3 linked regions of the Homo sapiens genome follow. The protein of the gene in region 1 purifies or fractionates together with the protein of each later gene. This does not show direct contact. Each region holds a gene or a part of one and is shown in the gene's direction. Other genes may lie near its edges.

Region 1 (7,674 bases):
TTGTTGAGACGGAGTCTCACTCTGTCGCCCAGGCTGGAGTGCAATGGCACGAGCTCAGCTCACTACAACCTCCACCTCCCGGGTTCAAGCAATTCTCCTACCTCAGCCTCCCGAGTAGCTGGGACTACAGGTGCCTGCCACCATGCCCAGCTAGTTTTTATATTTTTAGTAGAGACAAGGTTTCACCATATTGGCCAGGCTGGTCTCAAACTCCTGACCTTGTGATCCTCCGGCCTCAGCCTCCCAAAGTGCTGGGATTACAGGCGTGAGCCACCGTGCCCAGCCAAAAACCCCTTACTTTTGCAGACACAAGTAATAGGTAAATAACGAGATCTTTGCTGATTCTGTTTTTTCACATTTTGCCCCAGTTGGGGCTGAAGAAGACCCTGTTAAAAGCACCCGGCTCTACCAGCAATCTCGCAAGGAAGTCCTCCTCGGGGCCTGTTTGGAGCGGGGCATCCAGTGCGTGCACATCCCCAGCAGTGGGCAAAGGTGAGGCAGCCGGCATCATGCTTGGACCCACATCTGGCCAGGTGAGGCCTGGAGTGCTGCTCAGGCCTTGGAGACTGTTTCTGCAGAACCACTTAGGCTTGGCAGGACGTCCCGGAGGGCGTGCTGTGTGCGGTGGACCAGGCTGTGGACTGAGTTGCTGTACCTGCCCTCAGTGCCTCTGTCCCATGAGGAGGGCACACTCAGATGGGTGGCTTCAGTCTACGGGGTACACATGGCCAGAAAGCATGTATGATACCCCGTGCCTGAGAACATGGACACTGGAATCACCCTCATGTCCATGTCATGAGACACCAGTTTTAAAATAGGACTATTCCAGATAATGTAGGGCATATGGCCCCATAACTCCTGGGTGCCTGTTTAAATCCATGCTCCCACACCTGTTTGAGGTCAAGCCACATTTCAACCTTGCCAAGCCACAGCTGCCATCTAGTGGTAAGGGAAAGCCTTCGCCTTTCTGCTCTTCAGAGCGAAATCCTCTTCGAGGTGCATTGGCCATGTGGCGTCTCGGGGTCGTTCAGGGCAGCATGGTGTGGATTGTGTTCACAAAATGTAAAAAGTGGGCCGGGCGCAGGGGCTCACGCCTGTGATCCCAGCACTTTGGCAGGCCAAGATGGGTGGATCGCTTGACCCCTGGAGTTTGAGACCAGCCTGGCCAACATGGTGAAACCCTGTCTCTACTAAAAACACAAAAACTAGCCGGGCATGGTGGCGGGTGCCTGTAGTCCCAGCTACTCGGGAGACTGGGCCACGAGAATGGCTTGAACGCGGGAGGCAGAGGTTACCATGAGCCGAGATTGCATCACTGCACTCCGTCTCAAAAAAAAAAAAAAAAATGATAAGTGTGAACTCTCTAATCAGATTGATCTGATCTGGAATTCTGACTCTGCCATTCTGTGATTAAGAGAGGTTTGTGTCCTTATCTTTATAGACTGAGGTGATGACCTCCTGAGATCAAGCAATCCTCCCACCTCAGCCTCCTGAGTAGCTGGGACTACAGGCACATGCCACCACACCCGGCTAATTTTTGTGGGTTTTTTTTTTTTGAGATGGAGTCTCACTCTATTGCCAGGTTGGAGTGCAGTGGCGCAATCTTGGCTCACTACAACCTCTGCCTCCCGGGTTCGAGTGATTCTCCTGCCTCAGCCTCCCAAGTAGCTGGGACTACAGGCACCTGCCACCACGCCCGGCTAATTTTTGTATTTTTAGTAGTGACGGGGTTTCACCATGTTGGCTAGGATGGTCTCGATCTCTTGACCTCGTGATCCGCCCGCCTTGGCCTCCCAAAGTGCTAGGATTACAGGCACGAGCCACTGCGCCTGGCCCACATTTTTGTGTTTTTTGTAGAGAGGATGGTCTCACTATATTAGCCAGGCTGGTCTCGAACTCCTGGCCTTGAGTGATCTCTTGCCTTGGCCTCCCAAAGTGTTTGGATTACAGGCGTGAGCCACCACTCCTGGGCTAAAGTTTTTCTTTAAGAATCCTTTACCAGATCGTCTGCGTATATTGGTAGCTCAGTATGTATTACCCTAGTTTATCTGGTCTTCTATTTTAAATAGTGCTTATGGTTAATATGACGCAGCCTCCTTGTAATTTTAAAGGAATCAACCAGTAACAATTGCGTCTTTTTTCCTTGTTCCCTGCCCACCTCTGTGACCAGACAGGTGAGACATGTGACTAGACTATCCCCTTCCATCTGCTCAACTAATGTAGATTTCTCCTGCCAACATAATCAACGAAGATAGGAGAGCTTGAATTTATGCATGCTTATGTACATGTTAGTAATTATTTTGAGAATAAGTACCTTAGAATACACTCAGCTAAGCTAAAAGCTGCCTGAGCCATCCTGTGTTTGATGATGTTGCCTGAAGGGCTTATAGAATATTGTTAATGTGTCTTATGTTTAAGGTAGATATGCTAAAGACAGCATAACTTCTGTGTGTTTGTTAAATAGCTTCATACTTTTATAATAATGTGATTTTTGTGTGTATACCTTCTAGCTAAATCAAGTGAATTTGCAAGTATTCCTGCAAATAGCTCCCGGCCTCTGTCAAACATCAGCAAGTCAGGCAGAATGGGACCCGCCATGCTGCGGCCAGCTCTGCCTGCAGGCCCTGTGGGGGCATCCTCCTGGCAGGCCAAGCGGGTCGATGTTTCTGAGCTGGCAGCGGAGCAGCTCACGGCACCCCCCTCAGCATCCCCCACCCAACCCCAGACTCCGGAAGGTGGCGGCCAGTGGCTGAACTCCAGTTGCGCTTGGTCAGAATCTTCTCAATTGAATAAGACTAGAAGTATCAGACGGCGAGATTCCTGTCTAAATTCCAAGACAAAGGTTATGCCTACTCCTACAAATCAATTTAAAATTCCTAAGTTTTCTATTGGTGAGTAATAGATACATTTTAATGTGTCTTTAAAAAATACTGAAGAAATTGCATTTAAAGTTTTAAACAATTATTGATGGCATTGATGGTGTTTTTAGTTCTTTCCTCCAACAGTGCTTTCAGGTGTGACCCGCTGTCTTCTCGCCCACGTTGTTTTGGGGGGTCACTGGAGGCTCCCTGAATGTCTTACGTTCGTTCCTGTGTGTGTGACACCCCAATGCTCGTAGGCTGCTTGTAAGGTTTTCTCTTTAGTGTTACTGTCGGGAATTTGATTATTATGTGCTTTGAGGTGGCTTTCTTTGCCTTTATCCCGCTGAGGGTTTCTTAAGCTTCTTTGATCTGTGGGTTGGTTTTTTTCAGCAAATTTGGAAAACGTTGGCCATTATTTCTTCAGCTATCTTTTCCTCTTTCCACTTTATTTCCTAGGACTCTAATCACATCTATTTCAGGCCTCTTGACGTTGTCTCACAGGACACCGAAGCTCTGTTCTTTTTTTTATTTCAGCCTTTTTTCTTTTTCTTATCTTTTTTCTTTTCTTTCTTTCTTTTTTTTTGTTTTTTGTTTTTTGAGACGGAGTCTCGCTCTGTCACCCAGGGTGGAATGCAGTGGCGCGATCTCAGCGCACTGTAACCTCCACCTACCGAGTTCAAGCAATTCTCCTGCCTCAGCCTCCCGAGTAGCTGGGATTACAGGTGCCCACCACCACACCCGGCTAATTTTTTTTTTGTATTTTTGGTAGAGACGGGGTTTCGCCATGTTGGCCAGGCTGGTCTGGAACTCCTGACCTCAAGTGACCCACCCATCTCGGCCTCTCAAACTGCTGGGATTATAGGTGTGAGCCACCGTGCCCGGCCCAGCCTTTTTCCTTGAGCTACAGTTTGGGTAGTTTCTGTTGTCAGATATCATTTCTTCTGCAGTGCCTAACAGCTGTGAAGCCCATCCAGTTAACTTTGTTTCTAACATAATAGTTTCCCCTTATTTCTTCTCATGGTACTTGGGTTTTCTTTTACATCCTCGTGAGCAAATTGATAATGGTTTTAGGGTCTACGATTCTTCTCATACCATCTTCCCCATCATTTTGGGGTCTGTTTCGACTGACTAATTTTGTTTCCGGGTTTTGGCCTCATTTTCCTGCCTCTACATTTTTCACAAGTTTTTCTTGGTTGTTGGATATTGTCAGGTGTACACTTTTGAATGTCTGGATTTTGTTGTCTTTCTCTGAGGAGTTGGGTTGGGCTTGGCAGGCAGTTAAGGTGCAGATCATCCTTCCGAGGCTTTTTATGCTTTGAAGTGGTGGGTCTAGCATAGCCTTTCCGCCTCCCGCCACCGGCGTCCTTCCCAAGGCCTCTGCTGCACACCCGTGTGTCCCGCAAGGCCCGCGAGACCCCTGCACTCCTGCTGCTGCAAGATGACACCTTCTCGGCCCTGTGAGCTCCGCTCGTTGCTCCCTGGTAAGACGGCGGTTTCTCGGCCCTGTGAGCTCCGCTCGTTGCTCCCTGGTAGTTGCTCTTCTCTTGACCTTGAGGACTCCTGCCCTGCACCTGTGCACTGCCTGGTGCTCAGCCAGAGACTCGAGATTCCCTTGGGTTCCTAGAGCTCGTTCTGTCGGAGTAGCCCCCTCCTCTCTAGTTTCTGGCCCTCAGATTGCAGCCACCTCAGCCTCCTGAGCTCCAGCCACTGCCTTCTCCAGTCAGTGAGGCCACTGGCCCCAGCAGGTGTCTGGCCATTAGTGGGTGGGTGTTTGTAAAGTTTTCATGAATTTCTTGAACAATTGTGTGCAATGCAGAAAGTTCTCAGAGCTGACTTAAGGTGAGAGGAGCGTCCTGGCCTCCTCTGTCAGGCAGATCTGCCCTCTGGGTGCTTGAGGATTTTAAGTTCTGGCAGTGCCGGCCAGCACAGGCAGCCTGCAACTCCCAGAAACTGCATTCTGAGTCCTGCTGTAGGAACAAGCTGTTCTGCTGAGTGTCTTCTCTGTGCTGGAATGCTTTGGGGGACAAGGGACATCATGATAAGACAGACCTACTCTCACAGAATTTCTGTTTAATAGGAAAAGATACGAAATGTTATCAGATGAGCAGGCCTGCAGATCCTAGCACAACAAAGGGACTAAGGGAAGATGGTGTCCTGGAGCTGGCATGTTTGGGGAGGAATTTGCATCGGGTGGTTCTTTGGCAAAGATGGTCAGGAGGTGACACGGGACTGAGATCTGAACCAGGAGACTGAGGCAGCCGGTAGGAAAGTGCAAGGGGGAGCACTCCAGGCAGAGGCAACGGCAGGAGTGCAGAGGTCCTGGGGCAGGAAGGCGTGGGACGTGCTCTGGGAGCAGCATGGGGGCCGGAGGGTGGGAGTGCAGCCGCTGCGGTCGGGATTCTGCGTAGACGTGCGACAGCTGGTCAGTACTCCTTGGTGTCAGGGACCCAGGCTTACTCCATCCTGTGCTGCCGTGATGAGCTTCTCATCCTCATGGTCTAGTGTGGCTGCACCGGCTCTGGCCCTCATACCTCCCGGCAGGAAGCCTTCTTCTAGGTGAAGAAGAGCAAATCCCCACCTTTCAAGGACCCTCACTGCAAGTTGTCCCTGTGACTCCGTTTGTGTCCCATTGAGTACGACGCTTCCCTGCACAGGATGCTAGGACACGTTGTCTTTATTCCGCACACAGCTGAAATTTCTTACTGAGAAGAGGAAAGTTGCTGTTGAACAAAAACTAGCAACCTCAGCCAGTCAGTGACCGAGGGGCAGGGTAAGAAGAGATGAAGATGGAGGGGCAGCCCGAGGCCGGCTCCCAGAGCGCCGCGTGACCAGAGCGGACCCTGGAGTACCGTCAGTGCAGGAGGACGTGCATAGGAGAGATCAGAGCAGAGCGACTTGACCTTCAGAAGGTCCCTCCACAGAGGGAAGAGCAGAGTCTCTGGGCCGAAGAGTGGTGGGGAGGGTAATGCGGACCTGGCCCTCACTGTGTTGGGGAGGAAGCTAGTGCTGGGGAAGGAGGCTGGAGCGCTGCGGTCTGCCTGACGTTCTGGTAGCTTAGGGCTCATGTGGCAGTGCAGAGAGGGACTCGAGTGTCCCTGAGGTTCTGGCGGAACCTGGGTGCTGCCACTCATGTGACAGGAGGGCTGGAAGAGGCAGCGGGCAGAGTCCACGGCCCCATTTTGGAAGTAGTGAGGGTGAGAGGCCACTTAGGCTGCAGCTGAGGGGTGGAGCAGGCTGAGAGCTCAGAGGAGAAGCCACAGCTGGAGACCTCAGTGTAGGTTTCAACAGCAGAGAGCTGAGTTTGTAGAGATGGGAGCTGTGAGCTGGGCACGGTGGCTAACTCCTGTAATCCTAGCACTTTGGGAGGCCGAGGTGAGCAGATCACCTGAGGTCAGGAGTTCGAGAGCAGCCTGGTCAACATGGTGAAACCCTGTCTCTACTAAAAATAGAAAAATTAGCCAGGCATGGTGGCGCATGCCTGTAATCCCAGCTACTTGGGAAGCTGAGGCAGGAGAATCACTTGAGCCAGGAGGCAGAGGTTGTAGTGAGCCGAGATGGTGTCACTGCACTCCAGCCTGGGCGACAGAACGAGACTGTCTCAAAAAAAAAAAAAAGAAAGAAAGAAAGAAAAGAAATGCGAGCTGTGATTGGGTGGGTTCTGCAGGGACACCCTACGGCCCAGGTCATGTGGAGGTGTGTTCAGTAGTGTTTGCTTCCCTTCTGCCTGAATGCCTGGAGCCAGGACATGCGTCTGCCATGTCTCTCCTGACCACGTTGGCACAAGTGTTGGCTGGTCTCCTGGCTGTCGGGCTGCTTGATGCCACAGGACTTCTGCTAATCCCAAATCCCTGTTGGCTTTGCCCTGTTTCCCAGAGCGTGTCCCTGCGGTCTCCTTACGCACCTCTCAGATGTGCATTTCACCTTCGGCAGGCGGTTCCTCCTCTCTCCACAATGCTGGGAACAGGACTGTCTCTTGCACGCCTTTGGTCATTCATCAGGGTCAAAACTGGTCCCACAAACTCAGCACTGGCCGGAAGAGAGGCCCCAGGGGAGCAGCCACGCTGTTGGGAACACACAGCTCTGGGAGGCACGTGGTGGTGTGCACTTTTTGGCTGAGAGCACTGGTGGTGTTGCTCATTGGCTGTGACACCAGCTGTCACCGTGGAGGAGAGGTGAGGGCTGAGGGCACTCACAGCGTGGGACCACATGAACGGTGCCCTGTAGTGGAGGCTTTCATATGTGCACTTTCTCAAAATACTCGAGGCAAGCAGCATTCTTTGTAAAACAGTCCAGTTACAAATGTTGCTATTTACTATGAGTCCATGCTGCCGGGTCACCCAGAGGATTGAGACTTGGAATTCTGGCTGTGGGCTTTGCCTCCCCGGTACTGGGAGCTGCAGTGGAGACGCGCCGTCCAGGTTTAGGGAAGAGCTGATGTGGGCCTGGGAGGCGTGCGTGCTCAGGCAGCCCTAGGGCAGTCGTGAGGGTGTCAGGAGATGGCTTGTTCGTGTTCTGTTTCATAAGAATGACCTTCCCGTGCCACCATGGAAGCTGCTGAAGAGTGCGCTCCACCCAGCTGAGGGAGAGGACAACCGAGAGGAAGGGGTCTCGGGAGAGAGGGAGCCAACACGGGAGGCGGCAAGGGAGAGGGAGGCGGCGAGGGAGAGAGAGGTGGGCTTGCCTCCACACCCGCCAGGAGTGACCAACTTGGGTCTCACAGAGACCTCTGTGAATGGTGCGGGGTCAGTGACCCAAGAATGTTCCCAAAAGACAGGGATTATGGGATGACTTAGTCACAGACCACCCCACTCCA
Region 2 (8,401 bases), on another chromosome or scaffold:
AGGGGGAAAAGGACACAGTTTGCTGTCTCCTCCACTTAAGGTCATGAAGTTGTTTTAGGGTGTAACTGAGATAATGTATGTAACATGCTTAGAACAGGGTAAGTAATCAACAAAGTTATGTATTATTGTCAAAAATATGTATTCTGGGAGCCTGAATAAGTTTCCTGCAGTTGGAAGTGGAATACAGTCATACATCACATATCAATGGGGTAAGTGCTGAGAAACGTGTCATTAGGCAATTTTGTCGGTTTCAGAATATCACAGAGTGCACTTACACAAGCCTAGATGGTATAGCCCACTACACACCAGGATTATATATTATAGCCTGTTACTCCTAACCTACAAACCTGTGCCACACATTACTGTACTGAATACTATAAGCAACTGTAACAAAATGGTATTTGTGTAGCTAAACATATATCTAAACATAGAACAGATACAGTAAAAATATGGTATTATAATTTATAGGACCACCACTGTATCTGTGGTGTGTTGTTGACTGAAATGTCACGCGGCACATGACTTTATTTGTTTAGAGGTTCTAGCAAGGGAACTTAGCTATGAAGAAAAGTCCTTACCTTTTTAAGGTTATGTGAAGTTATGATCTCTAACTGATTTGGCAGCATCAGGAAGTGTAAACACAGAAAGGTGAGGGGGGAAGGGTTTGCCATGTGTTCATATCAGTTTAGTTAGCTTAATATCAAAAGATTATAATTTAGATAACAAAGTGTTATAATAAAAGTAAAAATTCTGGTCAATTCTCTCTTCCATATTCCTTTTCTCTGCCACTTTCTTAAGTCATTGACGATGACTTAAGGTTCCTCAGGTGCAGCATACTTTTACCTATTTTCTCCTTTGTTAAGACTTAGACACTAAGATCTCTAAGAACAGAGGCCCTGTTTGTCTTGCACATTATTTTATCATAGCGTCTAGAAAAGCCTGGCACATGGCAGGAAGGCAAGAACTATCTGTTGAATAAATTTAGTCTATATTGGCAGTTGCTTCAAGTACTGGCTAAAGGGTCTGGGCAGAGTATTGGAAGGATAATTATTTTTTAAATCTTGCTTCTGCCACTTAGTATCTGTGGGATTTTGGAAAGTTACTCAATTTCTAAGACTTGGCCGGGCACGATGGCTCACGCCTGTAATCCCAGCACTTTGGGAGGCTGAGGTGGGCGCATCACAAGGACAGGAGATCGAGACCATCCTGGCTAACACAGTGAAACCCCGTCTCTACTAAAAGTACAAAAAATTAGCCAGGCGTGGTGGCAGGCGCCTGTAGTCCCAGCTACTCAGGAGGCTGAGGCAGGAGAATGGCGTGAACCCAGGAGGTGGAGCTTGCAGTGAGCCGAGATCATGCCACTGCACTTTAGCCTGGGCAAGAGAGCAAGACTGCCTCAAAAAAAAAAAAAAAAAAATTTCCAAGACTTGTCTGTTTTCTTGTATTGGATGGGCACGATACTTGGACATGATACTTTTTGAAATTATTGTTATGAGCATTACATTTTTAAAATGTAGTGTTTTTAGCACATAGGAGGCAATAAAAAAAACCTGCTCCTTCTCCGAACACTCCCTGCCTCTCTACAACATACCTTTTAGTTGGAAGAGCCTAGGAAATACCTAGGAAATGTGTTATTCAAGTTTTTTCCTTCTGTTTTTGGTCTGCTCCTTTACAATCAAAGCAAAGAGGCCTTCAAGTTGAGAACTAACTAGTTCCCAAAGGACTGATGGGTTCACTGTAAATAGTGTTTGGCACTTAGAACCTTTATGCCTGACACACAGTTCAACACATATTTTTTGAAAGAGTAAATTAATTAACAAGGTACTGAATAAGGATGATGCTCCAACCAGATAATTATGGGATGGACATGCTTTATTTATTTTTAGAAACAGTGTCTTGCTCTGTCATCCAGGCTGGAATGCGGTGGTAGGATCATAATTCACTGCAGGCTTAAACTCCTGGGCTCAAGGGATCCTCCTGCTTCAGCCTCCCAAGTAGCTATGACTATAGGCTTATGCCTCCATGCCCAGTAGACATGCTAAATGTGTGAAAAAGTGGGCAGATTTTATCAAATGAGAGGTTTGGAGTGATGGTGTGTCCGAATGCGTGATTTCAAAGCGTTCTCATTCATTCGTTCAATCACCATCTACTGTGTATCTACCTTGCATCAACCATAATACTAGCATGGATGTATCTCTGCACCCCCATGTTAGTGCAATTAGTCAATCACAATAATAATTAGAGAACAGAAGGATATATGAGTAACAAAAGGAAATCAGTAACTGCTTATTGGTATGTGAAACAGCATGACATCCAAGTATGTCAAGTAGTGTGATACTGTCTGGAGTGCATTTAAAGGAATCAGAAGAGATGAGGCTCAACAAGTAGTAGGTAGGTAGGGGAATTTAGAGGAATGGGAAGAGACAAGGCTCAACAGGTTTAGGTGGCCATGTGAGTTGGCACATGTGGAACTTCAGGTAAGATATTTCTTAAATAGACTGAAGAAACTGACACAGAGAAAACTTAAGTATATAAGATAAAGTAGGTCAGTAATGCCTATTCTTAGTTCTAATTCCCCATCTTCTTCTAAATTGGTCCATGTATTTCATTTCACAATTACACATAAACCTCTACAATGGTCACTGATTATTTACATACTTAGAAACTTCTAAAATGAGGCCAGATCATGAAGAACCATGTATGCCAGGTTGAGAGTTCTTAATTTCATCCTTTAGGGTAGCGATGGGGGAGTTACTGGAAGATTTTAATGCAAAGAAAAGACAATCACATTTTGGTTTCAGAAGGATCTGAATTGGAGAGTCAGGGTATAAAAGACAGAGAATCAGCTAAGAAGTTACTAAAACAGTCTAGTATAACAGAGATCATAAAGGCTGGAACTAAGGCAACAGAAGTGGGGTTAGAGATGGGATGTGTTTGAGAGATAAAAGTAGATTAGGCTTGATGAGGGAAATAAGACAGAAGGAGAACTCAGAATCACAGCTTTCTGAGCGGAGCTTCTGGACATGTGGTGAGGCCATTAACGGATATAGGGAACAGTATGGATTAAAGATGTAGGATGCTGGGCAAGGGCAAGAGAAGTTCAGTATTGGCCATGGTGAGTTGGCATCTGTGGAACTTCAGGTAGAGATATTTCCTGAATAGACCAAGGAAACTGACACAGAAAACTTAAGCATATAAGACAACATAGGTCAGTAATGTCTACCCTTAGAACAATTCCCCATCTTCTTTTAAATTTCTCCATATATTTCAGTTCACAACCACACATAAACCTCTTCAATGATTACTGATTATTTACATAGTTAGAAATTCTACTATGTATACTTGGAAAAAAATAAAATATTTCTAACAGCAGCTTGTTTGTTAATAGGGTAAACATGTCAACAATTATTGTCACAAAAGTGGTCTGAAAGAACCTCTTTGGTAAAAGTAATAGTGTAATACTTTCCTGTTATGTACTTAGGAATGACTGGCATTTTCCCTAAGGATAAAATATTCAGCTGTTGATAGCTAGACCATGTTAGTGTTGACCTCAGATTGGGGTTTACCAATGCAGAGGCTCAGGCCAATCAGTAACTTATACAGTGGAACCCATAGACCAGTAGCAATGATGGCTGATAACATGTCTTGAGAATTTGGTAATTCCACTGCCCAGTGGACGTGGGGCAGCAAACTGGGCACCAAACCACAGATGGATTGCAGTACACTGAAGGAATTCATTATAGTTTTGTGAAATTGGAGGCTGGCTTGACAAAGATGAAGCCTGCTGGGATTAAAAACTTGTGTGTTCTTGGCAAGAGCATGTTGCTGCAGAATTTCACCAGCCATAGTGGGGAAAAAAGAGGGGTGAGGGGGCGTGGGGAAAATGGGAGACCACAAAATTCCTGATATGATACATAAAATGTTAAATATCTATCAGCTTTGCATCCTTTGAGAGTCACCAGATTGAAGCACAGTATTTTGGATTTGGCTGGCAGATGGTGTACACAGACTTTCTGAGAATGTTAGCATTTCATTTGAAACTAGCAAGATTACATGTGACTATCATGGTAACTTAGCACTCACATATTTTTCAACTTATCCCTAACCCTGGGTTGAATGTAGAGGCTCTAATAACATATAAAAGGCTTTGTTAATGTATGGTCTGGGTCTCATTGAATAGTATTTCAGGATGTAATACTTCTTTTAAAATGTCCACAGGGCAGTGTCAACGTCTTTCCATGGAAATCTGGCTCACCCAATAAGAGAAAAGAGGCCAAAGGTAAGAAAGACTAAACCAGGGGAGATGGCAGGCAGTGATGTCTGGACTGTTTGAATGGGACTTCTCCATTTACCGCCCCTCTCACTTCCTTCTATGGTCTGGACCTTTAATCACCACAGCAGTCAGCCATGTAGGGTCAAGCTAATCGCTGTTGACATCATCCTACTACTTCCCTTTTCAAATTCCAGTGAAGCTATGTGTTTCCTGTCCTATTCCACACCCTAGAGAATGAATACCGGCCAGCTAGTATCTAAATTTAGAATGGCAGCAACGTGTCGGGTTTTCGGAGTAGAGATAAACAAAACCAGGTGACATTTCCAAGCCTCTCAAGGAAAGGGGGGAAAAAACCTTTCTGGGGTAAGTAAATAAGGAGAGCTTCAATAGTTCCATGGTAGAGAGAGGCCTGCTGGAAGGTTCAGAAAATAGGCCGTTTGGAACCTTCTCCTTTAAGCCAGGAGGGCGGCTTTGGGAGGCGTCTTGAAATACATTCTTGACTCTGCTGGGAAAGCTCGGGGAGCCAGAGGCCTAATACCCCCCACTTCAGGGGAAGCTGTGAAGGCAGCTGCACCTCCTTTGTCAAGCTGTTGGTTTCAACCACAGACACGAGGACACACTTGAGGTGGGGGGATAAGGGGAGAAGCCTGCCGCCCCGCCCCACCCCCGCCAGCACACCGCCCTCGCCATTCCTCTCCCGCCCCGCCCCGCCCGGCGTCTGTGACCCCGCGGGCCGAGCCTCAGGCGACCTGTTGGCAGGGAGAGTCACGTGATGCGCCGGCTGTGCACTCCCCTCGGGCGGGCCTCCTGTTGCGCCCGCCTGGCGAGTTCCATCACGTAACGCGCGGGCGCCGCCCAGCTCTTCCCTCGCTGAGCGAGGGAGGGCGGGCGTCGAAGAGGAAAGGGAAGGGGAAAGGGGCGGGAGAAGGGAGGAGGGGCGGTGTCCGAGTCACGTGACCCGGGGCAGCCCGGAAAGCTCCGAGGAGGAGCCTGGCGCCGCCATTTTCCTGCAGCTGCCTGTTCCTCTTACCCTGCCCGGCTCCAGCTGACCCGGGAAGGGGTGGGCTGAACTGAGGCGGGGGCAAGGGAGTGCCCGACATCTTGTCCGACTCCGCGGGTGACACGAGCCGGTTCTCTCTGGACTGGTGGCAGCGCGCGGCCCCGAACCGCGCCCCAGGCCGGCAGGCGGGGAAGGAGCCGGTGGGGGTAGGGGGTGCGGTGGGGGGTGGGGACCCTCCGGCTCTTGGGGGTCCCAGTCCCCGCCGGCTGCTGAGCGGGTGGGGTGGTGGAGGAGCTGCAGAGATGTCCGGCCAGAGCCTGACGGACCGAATCACTGCCGCCCAGCACAGTGTCACCGGCTCTGCCGTATCCAAGACAGTATGCAAGGCCACGACCCACGAGATCATGGGGCCCAAGAAAAAGCACCTGGACTGTGAGTGAAGCCGACCGCGGCCCCCGCTCCCCGGCGCCCGCGCGACCCGCGCGCGTCCTTCTCTCTCTCTCTTGTCTTTCACCCTTCTACTGCCTCTTCCCTCCCTGCGTCTTCTCTGGCACGGCCGGTCCTGTGCCCGTTGAGCTGTGTTCTTTTGCTTCCATCACACCTGCCTTCACGGCCTCCGCTCCCCGTCTCAAAATCTGACAAGCCACTCCCCTCCCTATTCCTAGGGGACCCTCGTCTCCCTGCCCGGTGCGCTACCACACCCCATCATACCCAACCAACTTGCTTCCCCACCTGGCTTCTCACCCCCTACCCGTCTCCACTGCAGCCTTCTGCTCTTCCTTCCCACCCGTCCGGTGCCGCCTCGTCGCCCTCGTCTGAGCGTCTCCAAGCCCCATTGTTTCTTCATCAGCCTCCTTCGGGTTTCAGTAAACGCCTGGTTCCTTGCATCCAGATCCTTGTTATCCCTCCGGGCTGCCTCCCTGGAAGGGATCCCCCACTTCCTTTGCTCCACTAGCTGCTTCGCCCATCCCTTCCTGGCTTTCTGTTCCACCTTCCCTCCTGCTTTTGGGTTACCTTTTCATCGCCTCTATAGTAGCTTCAGTGTAGTTTCTTCGACTCATTTTAAATACCATACCCAGTTACCCGACTTTTATTTCAGATTACCTTCTTTGTGGGAGTGAAAGTAAAAGGATTCAATTTGGTGTAGGGAAAGCTTTCTGGAAAGTTGGGATTTTTATTTGCCTCTGGTGGAATTTAATCGTTGTGTTGTCCATACTTTTGACTGGGGTGAGTTTGTGACTGTCAGCTCTGCCCCCCAGCTTTTCACATGGGGATATGGAAAAAGGCATTTTGCTGATACTCTTATCAGTTCCTGGAACTGTTAATTCTGGCGGCTTGAATTCAGAAGCTTGAGTGTTAAGCGTAGACTGTTGGAATTCCAAATGGATTAATAAATTTACTTACAAATAACATACATCCCTTAAAAAAATTGGCAAAATGATGTTTGATGATGCTTGAGTTTGGATGTTTTAATTATGCCAGTTACCTTTTGAGGAACTAGCTTTAGCTTCTCTTACACGACATAGTATTCGTCCATTCGCTAACGTAGATACAATTAGTAGAGCTAACTCCTCGTAACTTTTTTCTAACCTGGAAGTCACCTGTAATACCCTCCTTTTTCTTTGCGCTCTTTTACCCCAGGGTACAAAGCTCATTGGATCACTCAAGCCAATGGAGCTTAGACCTGAAACTTTTCAGGGAAAAATAGGGCAATAGTCACGATAAGTAAGTTCCCTTTTTAAATGACTGGACACATTAGTCTGACTGACTTTCATCATACATGAAAGTTACTTTGTTTTACTGTTTGAAGCAAGAGTGAGCATGCCCTGAAAGATAATTCACTGTCTGGAAGCCTGTTTTGATTTCTCATTTGGACTTTGGCCGTAAAGTTTGCACTTTAAAAAAAATGTACGAAATGTAGATTCTTCCAAGTTACTGTGCTCATGAATGCTGTTAGAACAAGTTTTTGCTACACAGAAGCCTATTATTCTTTGTGATTGTTCCTCCACTGTGGAAAAAAGTTTTAAATAAAAAAGCATTAGTGCTTGATTCTTTCAGATATGCATGCAGGCTGCTTTTAAACTCTCAGTCCTTGCTTGTCTTAGAGAATGGAGAATATGTTTAAATGGTGACACTCTTATGAACAGAAAACTTTTTAAAATGCATCGTAAAGCCATATGTGATTTTTTGATTATCTGATACGTGTAGTAGACGTTTCTGCTATTTACGGCTCTTCAAATACTACTTGGTTTGCCCTACCAAATCTTACAGTTTGTCCTGACACTGTGTTAATTCTTTTGTTAGTTGCTTTTGGTTTTTTTTTGTTTTTTTTTTTTGTATGGGAGTATGAAGAAACTAGTTGTGACTGTGTGAACTATTTTCCTCTTTCCTCATTCAAAATAAGAATCGATAAGGCTTTTAAAAGTTTTTTTTGTAAAGGTTTGTGTCTTATTTCAAATGTAGCAGTGGTTCTTTTAAAGCATTGTCAAAAAGAGGAGAAAATAGGTAGGGTTAGAAGAGTGCTATTTGCATGTTGTTTCATAAATGTTATTAGCTATTTCTCTTGTTATAGCCACTACTGCAGATAGATGGTAACTGGGATTAGGTTTGGAGGATAATCTTGCATTTGTCGTTCTTTTTCTCTACCACTTCTGTGTTTACAAGCTCCCACGTTTTTGGAACTTGAATATACCTGGTAGTATTTGATTTAAAAATATATGTGTCGTTAATGTGCTTCTGTTTCTTTTCAATGAGGTTTTAAAATACAGGGATACTATTTTCCCTACATTGTTGATTAAAATGTCCTGTAATCAGTTCTCACTAATAAAATACCTTTATCTTAGGTAAAGTCTGACCAGTGAGTGGTTTACTAAACAAATACCTTCCTTGCACACACTAACATGCTTTGAGAAAATTAAAAAGTCTTCTACGGACAGTTCATGGTGTTGACATCATGAACTTTAGGCTTTAATACAGAAACCTGTCATTTCAAGTAATTTTTTGTCTTTTAGGAATTTTTCTTTATAGTGAAAGCTTAGTTTATGTGCACCTTTTAATGCCCCTAGCAACTGATGCTTATTTATATGAATCTAATGAAAATGATTTCATTTTAAAATGGCAGCATTTAA
Region 3 (7,674 bases), on another chromosome or scaffold:
CTTTTGTTATAATTCCACATGTTCCTATGATGCTGTTCTTTTTTTTTTTGTTTTTTTGAGTTTGTTTTCTCTCTTTGGTTTAGGGTGGGCTGTTTCTATTGTCCTATCTTCCAGTTCACTGATTTTTTTCCTCTGTCCCCTCTGTTCTGCTGTGGAACCCATTTACTGAGCTTTTTATTTGAACTGTTATATTTTTTACTTATAAAATACCCATTTGGTTTTTCTTTACATCTTCTATTTCTTTGCTGAGGCTTTCTATTTTTTCAATTGCTTCAGCTGTGTTTGTAACTGCTCACTGAAGCATTTTTATCATGGCTGCTTTAAAATTTTGTCAGAAATTCTAACATCTCTGTTATCTGGGTGTGTTAGTCCATTTTATAGTGCTATTAAGGAATACCTGAGACTGGGTGATTTATAAAGAAAAGAGGTTTTGTTTGGCCCATGGTTCTGCAGGCTGTACAAGCCTAATGCCAATGTCTATTTCTGGGGAGACCTCAGGAAGCTTACAATCATAGTGGAAGGTAAAGGGGGAGCCAGCACATCACGTGGCAACAGAGGGAACGAGAGATAAGGGGGGACATCCCAGACTCTTTTAAACAATCAGATCTCATGTGAACTCATTACTGAAGAGAAGGCATAAAACCATTTATGAGGGATATTCCCCCATGACCCTCCCACTAGGTTCCACCTTCATGTTTCAATATGCGATTTGGAGGAGACAAGCATCCAAACTATATCACGGTGTCTCTTTATTTTTTAAAAATTAATTTTGAATTGTTCCAGGTTTTTGGTATTATGGGTGATTTATAAAATTGAAACCTGAACAGTTTTATACTGTGAGACTCTGGACCTTTTTAAACCTTCTTGGCTTTCTTTGACACCATTCTGTCAGAGAAAGGAGTGGCATCACCTCATTACTGCTAGGCAGAGAGAGAAGTCCAGGTTCCCCTCCCAGCTTCCATCAGTACCTGAAGAGGATGATGCCCTCATACTGCCAGGTGGGATGAAAGTCCAGGCATCCCATTTGGACTGCACTAACAACCCATAAGATGGGTTGGGGGGACTTATTACTGGCCAGTGGGGAGGAAAGCCTCAGGTTTTTACTTGGCACTGTCTGATACCTTCCTGGCAGGGGAGCTGGGGCACCTCATTACAGTGCTTGCCAGGGTGGAAGCCTACGCTCCCCATCCTGCCTTTGCTGGTGTGAGGAGTGGTGGGGGCCAATGTTTTTTCTGTGGTGTTTGGCTGGAGTAAAGTGGTTATTCTCTAAAAGATTTTTGGCTTGCTAGGCTGCATCTTTCCTGATCCTTTGGTTAGAGAGATTATACTTTTGTTGGGGTGCTTTATGTTTTTGTTTTGTTTTGGTCTGTGCTCACTGACATTTCCAGGTTACTAGATTCTTCAGCTGCCGGGAAGAACCTCAGCAGCTGAGATATATGAGGCAAAAAGAAAACCTAGGAAACACACCACTAGGTTATTCTTTTGGACCTGAAGTCCCTAAATAGTCTGCCTTTTCTCTACCTTTCAGAGTCTTCTTATGTTTGTTTTATAGATAATGCCCAGGGTTATTAGTTGTACTTAACAGAAGGAATAGAGAAAAATATATCGATTCCATCCTTGTTAGAAGCAGAGGATATCAGACATACTTATTTTCTTAGTCTGTGTAGGCTGTCTGTAAGCCACAATGCAGAGCTCTCTGGGAAAACATGGATTGGAGAATGGGGTCTGGAGCCAAGGCTGAAGTAGAGTCTCCTCCATTCCAGATCTAGGACTTGGGACCCACACGCTCTAGTATGTGTACAAAGCACATAAAGTTAACAATTTAGATGAAGTAGACCAATTCCTCAAATCCCATGAACTATCAAAACTCACCGAAGATGAAGTAGATAACCTGAATAGTTCTACAACTATTGTTAGAAGTTGAATTCAAAGTTAAAAAGCTGCTGAAAAAAGAAATCTTCAGGCCCAGATGGTATTACTGGTAAATTCTACTAAACAGTTAGAGAAGAAGTAACACCAATTTTACATATCTATTCCAGAAATAGAGAAGGAGGAAACACTTGTCAACTCATTTTATGAGGCCAGAATCATCCTAATCCAAAACCAGACAAGAACAAACCATAGACCAATATAGATGCAAAAACCACCAGCAAAGTATTACCGAATAGAATCTGGCAGTATGTAAAAATAATCATACAGCATAATCAAGTAGGGTTTATCCCACAAATGCAAGCCTGATTCATGTCTATAACTCGATAATTAAAAATAAATTATTATAATCTGCCAAACTAACAGCAAAAACTGCATGAACATTAAAAAAATCACATGATCATATCAATTGATGCTTTGGCATTTGACAAAATTCAGCATCTGTTTATGATAGAAACTTTCAGCAAACTGGGAATACAAAGGAATTTACTCAACTTTATAGAGAGTATTTTTAAAAATCTAACATCATACTTAATGATGAAAGACTAAATGCTTTTCCCCCAAAACTGGAAATGAGGCAAGAATGTTCACCCTCACTATTCCAATTTATGATCATAGAAGAATTCCTAGGCAGTGCAGTAAAACAAGAGAAAAAAAGTGCATGTAGTTGGGGGAAAAAAGAAGTAAAACTGGGCCTGCTTGTAGATGACAATGTGATTGTATAGAAAATCCTAAGGAACGTATCAAACAAAACGAAACAACCCTCCCAGAACTAATAAGTGAGTTTAGCAAAGTCACAGGATACAAGGTCAGTACGTAACAATTTTATTTTTATATACAAGCAATGAACAATGGGGGAACTGAAAGTTTTAAAATACCATTTACAACAGTTTTTTTTAAGTACTACTCTACCAAAACACGTACAATATCCACATGCACTAAAAAGTAGAAAAAAGTGATATAATAAATCAAAGGAGACCTAAGTAAATATGTAGATTAGAAGACTAACAGATTAAAGATGTTAACCATCCTCAAATTGATCTGCAGACTTAAGGCAGTTCCAATCACAGTCCCAAAAGGACAATTTTGTAGATAAAGACAGACTGATCCTAAAATTTATATGGAAATACAAAAACACTAAAGTAGCCAAAACAATTTGAAAAAGAAGAAAGCTCAGTGAATCACACTACCTAATCTTAAGACTTACTCTAAACTACAGTAATCAGTGAGCAAAAGGCATGTAGATCTTTGGAGCAGAAGAGAGAGTCCAGGAATAGATTCATAGAAATATAGGCCAATTAATTTTTTACATAGGTGCAAAGGCAGTTCAATGGAAAAGGTTACATCTTTACAGTAAATGGTGTTGCAGCAATTGGACATAGATAGGCAAAAGAGGGACCCTTGATCTAAACCACACACCTCACACAAAATTTTAACTCTAAATGGATCATAGATCTAAATGTAAAAGGTAAAGCTGTAAACTTTTAGAAGAAAACATAGTGGAAAAATCATTTTCTGGGATTAGGTAAAATGTTCCTAAACATGCACCAAAAGCAAGGCTCATAAAAGAAAGAATTGACAGATTTCTCATGTGGCAAATGACTAGCGTCCTGAATATATGAAGGACTCTCTAAATCAAATAGTAAGAAAACAACCCAATTAAAAAATGGACAAAAGACTTTAACAGACATATCACCAAAGAGGTATAGAGATGGCAAATCAGTACATTGAAGGGGATCAACAGCAGTAGCCATTACAGAAATGCAAATTAAAACCATGATATCTCTGCACACTTAAAATGACTAAAATAAAATATGATACTAAGTGCTGATGGTTTGAGGAGCAACTGGAACTCTCATACACTGCTAGTAGGAATGCAAAATGTACAACCACTCTAGAAAACTGTCAGCTTCTTAATAAACATTTACCACTGACCCAACAATTCTACTCCTGCTATCTGCTTTAAAAAATGAAAACATGTCCACACAAAAACCCGTATACAAATACACAGAAACTCTATGAATAATCTCGCGATGGCTCACGCCTGTAATCCCAGCACTTTGGGAGGCCGAGGCAGGCAGATCACAAGGTCAGGAGTTCAAGACCAGCCTGGCCAATATGGTGAAACCCTGTCTCTACTAAAAAATACAAAAATTAGCCAGGCATGGTGATGGGCGCCTGTAGTCCCAGCTACTCAGAGGCTGAGGCAGGAGAATCGCTTGAACCCAGAAGGTGGAGGTTGCAGTGATCTGAGATGGCGCCACTGCACTCCAGCCTGGGCGACAGAGCCAGTCTGTCTCAAAAAATAAATAAATAAAATTTAAAAACTGGCAACAACCGAAATGTCCTTCAACAGGCAAATGGATAAACCAACTGATACATACTTACAATGGAATACTACTCAGCAATAAAAAGGAATGAACAGTCAATACACAGAACAATTTGGATGAAACTCAAAGGCATTAAACTGAATGAAAGAAGTTGGTCTCAAAACAATACATGCTATATGATTCTATTTACATGACATTCTGGAAAAGGCAAAACTATAGTGATGGAGAACCTATCAATGGTTGCCAGAAGTTAGGAGTGAGAGGAGCCTGTGACTAAAAAGGGGCAGCACCAGGGAGTTCTGTGGGAGATGGAACTGTTCTGTGTTCTTGACTGTGGTTATTCCAATCTATACATGTATTATAATTCAACTGTCTACTAAAGAAAAGGTCATTTTTAATGAATAAATAACAATAACAACACAGCAAATTGCTGCTGAACTGTCCCCACACTGAAATTGTGCTGAGAATTTTCTAGTTTACCTGTAAGCAGCTTCACTACCATACATTTAGCCAAGTTTCCATGACAGCAGGCAATTAGCATTCAGGAGGGCCTTTGAGTGGTTTGGCGGTAAGGCAGTTGCTCAGTTCAGCCATCTTTACCTTAGACATTAAGATATCCAAAATAAATGATTTTTCTGGGAAAATAAAATTTCTTTCTAAAATATTTCAATTTTAACTGTAAGCATTCCACAAGTATGTGGTTAGGCTGGTGTATATCAAATGAATTAACTCTTCCATTTAAAAATACATAGAGTAAAGCTTGTGAACAATCTCTGGCTTAGAGAGTGTTTTCACCAAACTATAAGACTGTGTTACACGTGGACATCAGATACCAGCTTAGCTCCTCCTTCTTTTGCTGCCTTTTCCTCCCCTATAGGAGGTTGTGGCTCACTGGATTGCTGAAAGCCGCATTGCCATTGAGAAGATCCGCTTGTTGACTCTGAAAGCTGCTCACAGCATGGACACTCTGGGCAGTGCTGGCGCTAAGAAAGAGGTGAGGCTACCTTCTCCCCTCAGACCACCAACTGCTGAGCCTTCTCCAGTTCTCTCACCTGTTGGACATTTCAGTTTTCATGGCATCTTGATGGCACTCAGAATATTGGAAGCCCCCATGTGATTTTGGGTTATAAATTATAAATGCCTGTCACTTGCTAGTCTCCTAGCAAGTGCTTTAGGGAATGATTTTCAGGAGGGAGAATATCTTCAGCATTCTTAAGATACAGCAACAAGGAATGGGGGAAATCATAGGCTTTACACAGCCCTGGAACTGCACCCACTCTGCCACTTTCTTCTAGCCTTGTGATCACGGGCAAAGTACTTAACTTTTCTGCCTAAGGCCTAGGGTTGTTGTGAAGAGTAACCAAGATGATGTACATAGAATGTGCAGAAGCCACGTACAGTGGCTCTCGCCTGTAATCCAAGCTACTTGGGAAGTGGAGGTGGGAGAATTGTTTGAGGCCAGGGATTCGAGACCAGCCTGGGCAACATAGTGAGACCCTGTCTCTTAAAAAAAAAATTAGCCGACATGGTAACTTGTACCTGTAGTCCCAGGGAGGCTGAGGCAGGGGGATTGCTTGAGCCCAGGATTCTGAGGCAGCAGTAGTGAGCTATGATCACACCTGGGAATAGCCACTCCACTCTATTCTGGGTGACAGAGTGAGAGCCTGTCTCAAATAACAAAACAAAAAATGCACAGCATGATACTGCTACATAGTAAATGTTTCATGAAAGAGACCTCTCATCCTTTGCTTTCTTATGTTTCTGGATTATATGAAATAAAGACATAATCATTTAATTCTAAAAGCCCATAAAACTGCTAAAAGAAACCTGATTAATAGCGCAAAGACCCTTGGACTATTTTTATGATCCCTAAGGTGATGAGTGTGATTTATCAGCTGCCTGAAATCCTTTTGGAAACAAGACAAGTTAGAAATAAATGGATAAAATGTGATTTGGAAGAGGTGTCTCTTTCCAGAGGGTCTGTATTGACTGAAATATGGCATTGCAGCAGGATCTCTTTGTTGGCTTTTGTTAAAGATCCTGTTTTAGTGGTGACTTGGATGTGGGAAAGTTTCCTTGTTTCATTTCCCAGTTTTGCCACATTGTGTATAGTCTAAGAAAGAAGCATTCTTTTCATATTTTGCTTATATAGATTGCAATGATCAAAGTGGCTGCCCCACGGGCTGTCAGCAAAATCGTTGACTGGGCCATCCAGGTGTGCGGAGGTGCTGGTGTTTCCCAGGATTACCCTCTGGCTAACATGTGAGTAGATGTCATTTAAGAATCATCTACGTTTGATAGGCGTGGAGGTAAAAAATCTACAGATGCCTTGACATTAATTGCTTATGTTTATTTTCAGTGTAATTGAAGGCTAAATGAAGTGATATACATTAATATAGAGCTCAACACCAAGAAATAGTTGCTCTTATTATTACAATAATCATTTCATTCCATTATGTTAATTTTTACACTGAGGGGTCCCACTGAGGATTCCTGGGCTGTAGATACAGCATGGGGTTTCGCTGAATTTGTAGCAGGACATGTCAGTGACTATCTAATATATAGATCCTGATGACTGGGAGGCAGAAAGGAACATTCTCCATTCCCCATCTGTCCATCTCCACACATAATTACAGTGTCACCTTCTCTATCACAATGGAGATAGAGTCTCATCCTTCATCAATTTTAAACCTTAAGAAAGAACTAAATATATAGTATCATACCAGTCACTGCCTGTTCTAAGTTCTAGCAACATGTAGTAAACTGTAGCAAACCAAGAATGAGATGAACTCCACTGTACTTTGGCATTTAACTTTCCCAAGTTGGAAACTTTAAGATGGCATTGCAGAAGCCCTTTAGCTTATTTTCCTGGTACCCTTTTTCTTACCCTGACCTTGGTGGAATTTAAGAATTAATATAGTCTTGGTTGACAATCAGAGTGACTGATGTCAAAGTATCATGTTCCTCTTCCATAACTCCCTGTGTTCCCTGATTCTTTTGCTTTTTCAGGTATGCTATAACCCGAGTTTTGCGTTTAGCAGATGGACCTGACGAAGTTCATCTTTCAGCAATCGCAACAATGGAGCTGCGGGACCAAGCCAAAAGACTGACAGCCAAGATATAAGGAGGGTGGCACTGCCACATCCCACTGGCAGAAACTCTCCTTTATACAAACTTCATTGGCTCCAACATTTGAATCTCATATTTTTGTAGCAGTTTGAGCACAGGGTTAATTATTCATTTGTGGTAAAGATTATAGCATCTATTTTGATCAGTGGGTTTTATTATTTCAAGGGTCACACAGGGTTAAGTTCAGTAAGAAATGCTGTAGCTGTTGTCATTCAATCTAGTGCCTCCTTGAGGCCAGGAGTTCAGGACCAGCCTGGGCAACATAGCGAGACCCCCATTGCTACAA

The links. Proteins that work in one complex are often made in the same cells at the same time.
Region 2: the proteins of GTSE1 (region 1) and PICALM purify together in Homo sapiens (affinity purification with mass spectrometry; 3 studies listed by BioGRID and IntAct, with this or other methods). This does not show direct contact.
Region 3: the proteins of GTSE1 (region 1) and ACAD11 purify together in Homo sapiens (co-immunoprecipitation; 4 studies listed by BioGRID and IntAct, with this or other methods). This does not show direct contact.

What each region holds. Positions count from the first base shown.
Region 1 is NC_000022.11:46,313,522-46,321,195, forward strand, and holds part of GTSE1 (G2 and S phase-expressed protein 1), read left to right. Parts: intron 1-368; coding exon 369-492; intron 493-2,510; coding exon 2,511-2,891; intron 2,892-2,989; exon of another isoform or gene 2,990-4,342; intron 4,343-7,674. UniProt on the Homo sapiens protein: May be involved in p53-induced cell cycle arrest in G2/M phase by interfering with microtubule rearrangements that are required to enter mitosis. Overexpression delays G2/M phase progression.
Region 2 is NC_000011.10:86,065,955-86,074,355, reverse strand, and holds the start of PICALM (phosphatidylinositol-binding clathrin assembly protein), read left to right. Parts: upstream 1-5,271; 5' UTR 5,272-5,575; coding exon 5,576-5,705; intron 5,706-8,401. UniProt on the Homo sapiens protein: Cytoplasmic adapter protein that plays a critical role in clathrin-mediated endocytosis which is important in processes such as internalization of cell receptors, synaptic transmission or removal of apoptotic cells.
Region 3 is NC_000003.12:132,558,680-132,566,353, reverse strand, and holds part of ACAD11 (acyl-CoA dehydrogenase family member 11), read left to right. Parts: intron 1-5,136; coding exon 5,137-5,253; intron 5,254-6,411; coding exon 6,412-6,521; intron 6,522-7,268; coding exon 7,269-7,383; 3' UTR 7,384-7,674. UniProt on the Homo sapiens protein: Acyl-CoA dehydrogenase, that exhibits maximal activity towards saturated C22-CoA.